Regions from separate parts of the Homo sapiens genome. Here region 2 is linked to region 1. Evidence: fine-mapped expression QTL. A gene starts in region 1. The other region holds a variant in brackets. All regions are shown on one strand. Distances are between the middles of the regions. Region 1 holds the start of NEPRO-AS1 (NEPRO antisense RNA 1). Region 2 overlaps NEPRO-AS1 (NEPRO antisense RNA 1).

Region 1 (5,383 bases):
GGAGGGCCCAATTTTGTCTTAAGCTCCAAACATTACATGAAACCAGTTTACACCACAACTTGCTATGTACCCATTTACTCTAACATACCACCAATTAGATTATGTACCCCATAATAAGTAGACAAGTTTTTTTAAAAATAATTTTAGCATTCTGATTATGCCCAGGGAACTGTTTCTTAATGTCCAACATTTTGTCTTGCTCAAATCACTTTATCTTTGAGCTGGGCAAAGGCACTGTTGTTATAGATTGTATATAATGAAGAAAATGTTTACTTGCCTATTAGAAACAAGACTGGGAAAGAATCTAAACATACTTCTTTTCTAACAAAAATTACTTTTTGAAATGCTGAAATGCTTTTAGGAAAAAAAAAGAAAGTGCACATGTAACTGTGGGCTATAGGCCTATAAAACACAAGTAATTTACTGAGATTTCCACGAGATTTCCATAAATAGCAATATAGTAAGTGGCAGTGTGATCTACATTTTCAAGTGAACAGGTTGGGTCTCACCTACCGGGCTTCCTCACCTGTTTGAGGGCCAAATGGGGTTTGTGGCGGCCCATTCTGTTGTGATTGCTGTAAAGGACTGCACATAACACATCTGTTTCTGCATCTAAGGTTTGGCTCTTCAGCGACAGTATGACGAGATGGCATTCTTTAATTACAGCTGCAATGCAAAGGTCTGAAGCAGAGACATCTAATAAGATTTAGTATGTATTTCTACAGTAAGTATATTATATTAAAAACACACTAAAAAAAGCATCTTTCCTTATTTGTTTTAAAGGAATCAAAAACTAATGTAATCAGTCTCAACTGTAAGAACGTAAGGATTCTAAGTATAAGAGAAGTTGGAAAATGGTAACAGATGATATAAAGTCCAGGAAATCATTAAGAGAACATCTGTAAAACAAGAAGCTGTATCTTTGCATTGCATTTTATCATGGTTTAATAATCTTTCATATGAATACTTTGCTGTCAGTCATTTGGTGTACACTTACGCCTCATGTGTACACTTAACCCCCACCTTGAAGGTAGGGCACATGTCACAACATGTGTAATAACTCTCTAACTCCCCATGTCGCTATGCCCGAAAGCAAGACAGAATGAATAAATTCACAGTCTTCAAAATCAAGGCTTCTGTGTTTGGATATCACTTTATGAGAGACACAAACATATTCAGAAAAGAAAAACCACCACAGTAACTGGAAATCGTATTATTTGATGAACACCGGGTGCTCATCAGCAGATGCTTCCTAGTCTGAAAATCTGTAGAAGTCCCTAAGATGTAGTTCATGTGTTATTTATGGCTCTAAAGGCAGCACTAGCATTCTAAATGGAAGTAAAGGCTGGTTGCTACCTAACAAGAATTTTCTTACTGTCCCAACAACTACCTGAAGACAGAATGGGCTGCCTCGGGGATGGGTAGTGAGTTGGTGAATTTCCCAGGCCTAATAGGAGTTGTTAAAGAATTTTTGAATAGAGAAAGAGGGAAGATTAATCTGTAAAGTGTGTAGGAAGGATAGATGGGATAATCTGTAAAGTGTGTAGGATGGATATATGGGAAAGGGGATGTGATGATCTAAGTCAAGCTTGTCCAACCCGCCTTATTTTGTTGTTCTGTTCTGTTTTGTTTTAGGCTTTTTGCAGCTTAAAGCCATGGTTTTTAGTTTGTCTCTAGTGAAAAGAGGGATGAGGAAAGGGCTTTACCAGCCCAACCGGAAACAAAGAACCCATGACTGTATTCTCTCCCTTGGGCCCCGGAGCTACGTATTTAATATTCATAACAGCTTCCATTTGAGTGTTCATTTACCATGCCAGGCAGTGTTCCAAATGCTTTCTCTACATTATCAACTCTTTCATCCCCCCAAACAGCCCTATGAGGAAGGTGCTTTTATCTCCATTTGAAAGTGAGATCAGTGAGGCACAGAAAGGTTCAATGACTCCTTCAAGCTCCAGCAAAGGGTAGAGCTAGTATTCAAACCCAAACAACCTGGCTCCTGCGCCAGGCTCCTACCTACTATATGCCCTTCACCCTAACAAATACCACCCATTTAGGTGGCAAAACACCGTCGTTTACAGCGCACTGTCTCCTAAATTACATCATTAGATATTCCCAACGCCCCTGTGAGGAGTAGGAGGACTAACTCCATTTCACAGATAAGCAGATAGAGGTCCGAAAAGATTGCAGTTTGAGTCCCAGTGCTTAGGTGACGTCCACCGCTCCTCGGGTACAGGAAAAAGAAGGAAAGGGGAAATGGACGGAAGGGTAAACAAGACTCCGAAGACCCGGGTGAGCAAGGGTTCCCAGGCAGCACTGTTCCCCGGCACCAGCTGAGTCCACCTCTCTCCGCCCCCTCAGCGCACGGCTGAGCCTTGGTCTTTCATCTCTCCAGCCAAGCCCTGGGTTAGCACAGCTGGTTCAATGAAGGAATGCGAAGCCAGAGGCCCTACAAGCTACACCAGCAAAGTGCTGGGACCGCTCGACCCCTACGTGCCCCGCGCCCCTTCCCAGCGTCCCCCGGGCCGGGAAGTCCCGGTACCACCCCCGCCCACATGCGCCGGCTGGGCCTGGCGGCCTCCCCCGGAAACGTTCCCCCATCCTCGCCCGGCGCCTCACTCACCAAGGGCCGCGCCGGGGTTCTGCACTGTCACTGCGCTGCGGTTCCCCGCCTTAGGGATTCTCACACGGTTCCACGGCTCCAGGCCCGGCGGCACCGCAGCCATCATGCGAGGCGGGGGGACTTACGAAAGGCGGAGCTACGCGAGAGCACGTCCAGCGACCGGAGGTGGGGCGATGGGACCCAGTCCGGGCCGGAAGGGAGCAGGGGGTGGGGCTCGGGCGGGGCCAGGAGCCCGGCGGGAGGCTGCCTTCATCGAGTAAACGCGTGGGACTGGGAAGGACCCAGTCATCTGTATATTGGTTACCAACACGTGGCCGCGTAGAATCATGGGGGAAAAAAGGCCCCATCCCAATACTAACCAACAGAATCTCTGAGAATGCGATGAGGAATCTGCGTTTTGTTTAAACTTAGCGCAGGGGATTCGGAAGCACAACCAAGTTTGGAACTGTTAAATACTTCTAGGCATTTTACAAATATGGAAAATGAGGCCCAGAATTGAGTTGGTGCTTTTACCCCCAACTCTGCCTCAGACATTAGGGGAAAAAGGAAGAAATGAAATGAAGAGGTTTGTGCAAGGTGTGGAATTTGTAGCGAAGAAGCAGTGATTTGCTTTGAGTGGTAAAGGAAGGCTCCTTTATGTCTTGAACCACAGCAAAACCGAGATCACATCAAAGAAACTTGGAAGACACCTGTCAGTCATTCCCACTTTTGTCAGTCTCCAAGACAAGATCATATTCCAAGCTCTAGTGATCCTTACCTCATTAATATCTTTCTAATAATTCATTTATCCTCAGCCATGCTAATGCCCCCTTAAGTTCTTAACACTCCCACAGTAACGTATTAGAAAAACAGTGAGTTTTGGAAACAGACTGCCAAGGTTCTAGTTCTAGCTTTGCTGTTTACTAGCTCGGTGATCTCAGGAAATTTACTTACCTCCTCCTCCAGACCTTAGTATCCCTGTGGGTAAAATGAAGATGATAATAATAGTATCAATCTCACAGACTTGTAAAATGCCAAGGCACTCCTGGCATACAAACAATGAACATTTACCATAGTTAATATTGTTGATGTTATTACTACTATTTCATGCAAGCAGTCTTACTTTATTGAAACACTTTCCATGCTCTTTCTGTGCGCCTTTACACATCTACCTACTCTACCTGGGTCATCCTCGGAAACACAATCTCCTTTCCTCAGCTCTGGGGTCGTCACTTGGGGTAATTCTTCCTAAACACCCCGTCCTCACTCCATAACTTGATACAGAGGCCCCTTTAATGTGTTACCACAGTGCCCTATGTTGGCCTATGTATTAGTTTTCTATTGCTGCTGTAACCAATTACGACAAACCTAATGGCTTGAAATAAGTAGAAGTTATTTTACATTTCTGGAGGTCAGAAGTCCAAAATTAATTTCAATGGACTGAAGTTGGCAGGGCTGGTTCCTTCCGGAATCTCTAGGGAAGAATTCATTTCCTTTCCTTTTCCAGCTTCTAGAGGCTGCCTTCATTCCTTGGCTCATTTCACTATCCTCCACCTTCATTGTCAGCATGACATTTTTCAGTCTCCTCCTCTTCCTCTGTCTCTCTCACCCTCCTGCCTGCCTCCCTCTTAAAAACACCCTTGTGATTACATTGAGCCCATCAAGATAATCAGGATAGTCACTCCATCTCAGAATCTTTAACTTAATCACATCTGTTTTAGAACTCCAAATTCAGGCTCATGTACCCGATGGGCAGCTGATGCCAAATATTGAGATACTGGTGCTTGGAGACAGAGAAATATTTATTCGATTTGACCAAAGTTAGAGGGCAAGAGAGCAAGATCTCTCAGATCCACAGTAACAAAAAAGAAGCAGGGAGTTTTTATGGAGCTAGAGAGTAATGGAGAGGGAGTTTCAAGGAATCCAAGGGAAAAGTCTGTGTTTCTTCCATTTCAGGTAACACCTTGTGCAGCCGTATGTACATGGCAGCTGGTTGCAATGTCCTTCCAGGAATTCATTCCTTCTGCAAACTATTCTTATGACCCTGAAGTTATCTCCTTCTGCTTGACAAAGAAACAGTACATCAGCAGTTTATAATTACATTGTGGGAACAAGGAATACTGGGCAAAAAGCGAGTGGTTAACATGTACAAGCAAGCAAGGGCCTGTTCAAAATTTTCATTATTTCATGCACACACACACACACACACACACACAAAAATGCTGGGGTGCTGAAATCTCAAGCAGCTGAAATCTCAAGGTTATATAGCTACAAAATCCCTTCTCAGTGCAAGGTAACATATTTACAGATTATGGAAATTAGCATGTGAACATCTTTGGGTGGGAGGTGGAGGGATCTTTATTCAGCCTACCACAGCCTCTCTCACAGAATTTACCTCGCTTTATTGTATTTCTTTGTTTACTTTCATGTCTATTTCTCCAATGGCATATGAACCTACTGAAAGCGAGAACTACCATTGACATAGCTAACTGGTCTTTCTATCTCAATGCTTAGTTCAGAGCCTGGCATATAGTAGGGCCTCAGTAGATATTTACTGGCTGTATATGAGGTTGGATGATGCTTGAATAGAGTCTTTTGAAGGATGAATAGGAACTCCCCAGGCAGTTAAAGGAAAAAGGATATTCCTACAGAGAGGTTTTAAGCAGCATGGGTTTGAAGAATCACTAGTCCTGAGTTGGTACTGCTGGGACGTGATTTGTGCTGAGGGGTGGAGCTGGGAATAGTGGTGTCAGTCAGATCATGGGAAGAATTTGGCTTTTTACC
Region 2 (5,383 bases), 75 kb after region 1:
AGGAAGGAAGGAAGGAAAGAGAAAGGAAGGAAGGAGAAAGAGAAAGAAAGAAAAGAGAAAAAGAAAGAGAAGGAGGGAGAGGGAGAGAGAGAGAAAGAGGAAAGAAAGAATGAATGAAAGAAAGAAGGAGGGGGAGAGAAAGAAAGGAAAGAAAGAAGGAAGAAGAAAGAAGGAAAGAAAGAAAAGAGAAAGAAAGAAAGAGGGAAAAGAGAGAGGGAGGGAGGAAGGAAGGAACAAAAGAAGGAAGGAAAGATACAAAAGAGAAGAAAAAAGTAAGTTTGTATAATAGATCTGATTCTCTCCTCCTCTATTATACACATTCAAGAGTGTGGTGTGGAAAAAAATAGAAATTTACACTTGACAAACAGCTTTGCTATCTCTAGTAATGAATTCATTTACTGTTTCCAAGCACCTATGACACTCATTTACCAAAAAGGAAAAATACAAGGGTCATAGATATAAATGTTTATTTTTTTCCTTATATGTAGAAACAAAATATTTACTAATGAAATTCTTGCTTCTTTTTTCTTGAGATGGAGTCTCACTCTGTCACCCAGGCTGGAGTGCAGTTGCACGATCTCGGTTCACTGCAACCCCCACCTCCCGGGTTCAAGCAATTCTCCTGCCTCAGCCTCCTAAGTAGCTGGGATTACAGGAGCATGCCACCACGCCCGGCTAATTTGTGTATTTTTACTAGAGACGGGTTTTCACCATGTTGGCCAGGATGGTCTCCATCTCTTGACCTCCTGATCTGCCTGCCTCGGCCTCTCAAAGTGCTGGGATTACAGGCATGAGCCCCGCACCCGGCCCTTGCTTCTTTAATTGAGGTTAGAGTCAATCCATCTTTACCAAGCTCTCCATTTCTCGCCATGATGGTGAGGTAATGTCCTTCTTCTCAGTGTGTAGGTGGACTAGCAAAATGGCATTACCTGGGAGCTTGTTAGAAATGCAGCATCTCAGAACCTTTCCCAGAATCAGCATTTTAACAAGTTTTCCAGGTAATTCAAATACACATTAAAGTTTGAAAAGCACTAAAGTAAGGCAGATGTAATAATAAGACAGCATTGGAAATTCATCTCAGATGGCATTATATGAAGCCTCATGATTCTGTCAGAATCTTAAAGCACTATGTGGGTGGTGATGGGGTGACAATATAAAGTAGCTGCAGTTTGCAGACCTGAGTCCTGCTCTGGGCAGTGTCCTCCCGATAAAGCCCCAGACTTCAAGAAATACATGCCTGCTGCCTGAAATACATGCCTACCGCCTTACCCTTGGGCTGAGGAAATCTCTCTGAGAGTCACATTCCACCCACTACCCCCCTCACTTGTTTCCATCATATTACTCTCTTCCTGGGACTCCTCTGCCTTCCTATAGATGTCTGGATGAGACGATGGAAGTGTCTCACTGCTTCTGCCCTTGACTCCCCTACACACCCTGCCCTAGGCCATGCCCCAGGAGACAAAGGAACTGGAACTGTGTATAACCCCGGGGCTAATTGCCCCAGATGGTGTTTTCCTCTGTGTCATCCTCTATTACCTTTACTCTGTCTTTTTTTTTTTTTTTTTTTTTTTTTTTGAGATGGAGTTTCACTCTTGTTGCCCAGGCTGGAGTGCAATGGCACAATCTTGGCTCACCGCAACCTCCGCCTCGTGGGTTCAAGTGATTCTCCTGCGTCAGCTTCCCGAGTAGCTGGGATTACAGGCATGCACCACCATGCCTGGCTAATTTTGTATTTTTAGTAGAGACAGGGTTTCTCCATGTTGGTCAGGCTGGTCTCGAACTCCTGACCTCAGGTGATCCGCCCACCTCAGCCTCCCAAGGTGCTGGGATTACATGCATAAGCCACCGTGCCTGGCCTACTCTGTCATCTTTCTTAAACCCATCTAGAGAAATATAATCGCTTTAAGCATTGTATTTGCTATTGTCTATTAGATCTGTCATTTTCCCATCAGGTTTTTTCTAAGTGTATCTTTGTTTTGAATCTTAAGGAAGGCTTGGTACTTAAAGGTAGCAGACCAGAAACAGGCAAACCATTTTGGTGTGATGCTGGGTTCTCCTTAACCATGAGAACAACCAATAGCATCACATTTTTAAAACTTTATTCAGTCATTCATTTTCAATACATGTTATTGAGCTCCTATTTGTCCATGGAGTGCAACAAAACTCTTATTCCGTGGAGTGCAACAACAACAAAAAAATTGTCCTTATGAAGACTCATTCTAATGGAAGAAGCAGTCAATAAACACATAAACATATAGCTAAATAATACTATTTCAGATAATGTGTTAGGCTATGAAAAGAATATAATAATGGGAAAGAACAACTGGGTATAAATTGTGACCCTTTACCTTGAGAAGTCAGGGAGGAACTGTGTTTTGTGTCATTTGAGCTCAGATATAAATGATTAGATGGAGGCAACTATTCAAATATCTAGGACAGGTGTTTCAGGCAGTGATGACAGCAAGAGCAAAGGTCCTGAGGCAGATCCTGTTATGATAAACACTTGGGGTGAGTAAGGAAGGGGAGAGAGGGAGAAAAGATGACTAAAACAAGCACTTGGCCTCAAGTCTCTGGGAGTCAGTGGAATGATCTAGGCATGATAGGAGGAAGAGGGAGAAAATATTGGAAAGTAGAGAAGAGAGAGCAAGAGGTAAAGGAAAGAAATCAGAAAGACATAAGAGTGGTAGGAGATGGCCAACTACAATTCACTGCCCAAGCCACTGGCCAGCACGAGTGCAGCGGGCTCCCTACTGGGAGTCTGTGACCAAAGAGAGTGTGTTTCTTCTTTGGAGGGAGGAGAGCTGCAGAAGGAAAATATACTAATAAGCTAGAGGCAAAGCAGGCCCTTAGTAACAAGAAATCTTCTGAAGAGAGAACTTAGGAATCAGATTCTAGCAAAGATATAAGCTGGAATTTTCAAGCTCTGTTATTTTCAGAGGTTATAAGGACATCTCAGAGCCTCCTACTCTGAGAGTTCTCACAGTCCTGGGCAGCATTCACACAA[A/G]CAGGTCGGTGTATGAATATATGAGGGTATGTGTATATCCTGTGTGTTGAGATCGTTGGGGGTGCCTGGGCAGAGGAAAAGAAGAAGGGAAGGCCATTAAAAGCCTTGCTGAGAAAGGTATTTCTTGTGGACAAAAAAGAATCAGGCCCCTCGCTCCCTACTGAGCCCATTTCTCCTGCCTTTACCCGAGCTGTCAGGCATGAATCCCTGTAGCATTCCGTAACTAATTGATAGTAATGGGGGCCATTGGGAGTCTAAGAATACGTGGCATTACCCGGCATGCATTGGAAAGAAGGGGGGCTGCCTCAGGGGCAGCTGTGGAGAAAATAAAGGCTGCATTTTCAACTTTTTTTTTTCCTTAATTGAAGGTAGGAGGTAGAAGTAGGGAGGAGCAGATTTAGGCAAACCTCTCCTCTAGCTTAAAAATAAAAAAAATTGCAAATCTCATTTCTTATCCTGAGCTAATATCCCAGGATACTATGTCTGCCACACAGAAGAAACAGATGGAATTTCAATTAACCCCAGGGCCCCCTGTGAAATCTATATTGTACCCTCTGGATTTACAACACATTGTTAATATATGACTGCAGGCTCTGGAGATTCCATCACAAATCAACCCCCTTTATTCCAGAGGTTCAGAAAACTACTACAAAAGCCCACTTCAGAATCAAAAGTGGACAGTTTCTTACAACTTCATCTTCAGAGTTGAAACCCAATTTTAATTTTATAACAGTTTATTTACTGAGCAGTCCCCATGTTTTTATAAGAGAAAACATTTATTTTTTTTCCTTCTATGAATGATGATAATGACAGACTAAAACTATTTATGCCAAAAAGAAAATTGGGAAAAGATACACCATTACCACACCTTGATGAATGATTCACCATAAACTCACAGTCAATTATCATCCAAAGGATTTTTATATTTAAAAAAATTATGCCTTTATAGAATGTAGTCTTTAATACTAAAGATATTTGAAATCAAAATAAAAGCAGTTACTTTTCCTATTAATATCACATGAAGTTGTAAATTTTGCAATAATGTTAAGAATTCCAAGTGGTTTTTCAAAGTCAGGATTGTTTATAAACCTATGGTTCTGACTTTTATGTCTTTTATTATTGGCCTCACCTTTCTGAATTTATTCTTCATTTCAAAAATAATATTTGCATAAGTCTTCAACTTCTCACACCCACAAAAACTTTCAAAATTAATTTTGACCTTTCGATATTATGGAAAAATTTTCTGTGCATTTTTCTTACAAGACTACTTTTCCCTAAAATTATACGTCAACTCAAATCTTGCATCACCTTCTGCAGAGATGAATTGTCCACATTCAGTAGTACAGACTCCTTTTCTCTCCAGGTTGCTGTTGTGTTATCCAGCTTATTTTACGAAAAATTTGCCTCTGAACCCCTGGGGACTATCTCTAGGAAATTAGATCAGCAAACTTCCTGTATTTTGAGAAAAATAACTTTGGAGAATTGAAATGTGTCTTTTTAAGGGATTGCAATATGATGTGAAGGCTCCTCCTCATTCCAAGGTAACCATGAGGGACTGAGGACATAGGCTGCCCTCAGAAATACAATCTATTAGACTCAGAGATGTTGAGAGCTGGGCAGAGTAAAAAGAGCCATCATTCAGACAGCTAAGATATTGTTTGTCCCCACTTTGCCATTTCATGAAGGTAAATAAGGCAGTCACTGGAATGTTCCTCTCCAAATTGTCAGAACAGAGGAGTTTTCCAGCCTGATTTTCTTTCCTCCACCAAATGCACAGCCTCGCAGGACCACTGGGGAAACTTCTTTCTCCCTGTGTCTACCATTGTATAGCTAGGCCAGCAGGGGCCATGACACAGTGAGAGCTTGTCAAATCAAACAGAGCTTGGTTGTGGCACAGGGACTGGGGGCCACCAAGGAGGTTCAAAGAAATGGTAGATTTGTTCTTCAGGCAGGTTAGGAACATTGGCTCAGAGGCTGGAAGAAGTTTCTTCTAGTGGAACAAGCTCCTCTTATTTTTAACGAAGTTGGTTTATACCCTTAAACCACCCTTAAATCAGAAAAAAAGTGGTGATTTTAAATAGGCTGAACATTTGCCTGCTTTGGACATCTTAATATCAGGCAATCAGAGGTCATTTTGATGCAATCATTGAGGTTTATTTCCTCATCTGAACAAAAACATGGATTTGTTATTAAACCCAGACTAGCATTCATTTAACCTGTCTCATTTCCATCTTAGATATCATTTATTCTGGAAAGAAAAAATATGTGGTCACTTAAAAATAATATACAAACCACATGTTAAGATTGACTGAGTTTTTGTTTGCTTTTTTAACCTTTTGTGTGTGCTTATTATATATAAATAATAGAAGTCGATTCTTC

What was found. PIP is the estimated chance that this variant, and not a neighbour inherited with it, causes the effect.
Region 2: its variant is the best candidate, but not a certain one, in a credible set for the expression of NEPRO-AS1 in whole blood (INTERVAL, PIP 0.80).

The regions. Positions count from the first base shown.
Region 1 is chr3:113,016,922-113,022,304 of GRCh38, forward strand. NEPRO-AS1 (NEPRO antisense RNA 1) reads left to right here and starts at 2,597. Exons shown (of 3, transcript NR_186663.1): 1 at 2,597-2,785. RMP64 (ribonuclease MRP subunit p64) reads right to left here and starts at 2,750. Exons shown (of 9, transcript NM_015412.4): 1 at 2,621-2,750; 2 at 527-681. The coding sequence starts at 2,726. RefSeq lists an enhancer at 2,199-2,268 and a silencer at 2,429-2,538.
Region 2 is chr3:113,091,524-113,096,906 of GRCh38, forward strand. All of the region lies in intron 1 of NEPRO-AS1 (NEPRO antisense RNA 1), which reads left to right. All of the region lies in intron 1 of LOLI1 (lncRNA oncogene in liver cancer 1), which reads right to left. Among named protein-coding and RNA genes, the nearest start is that of LOLI1, 10 kb to the right of the region's middle. RefSeq lists an enhancer at 1,124-5,383. The variant A/G (reference allele first, on the strand shown) is at 3,005.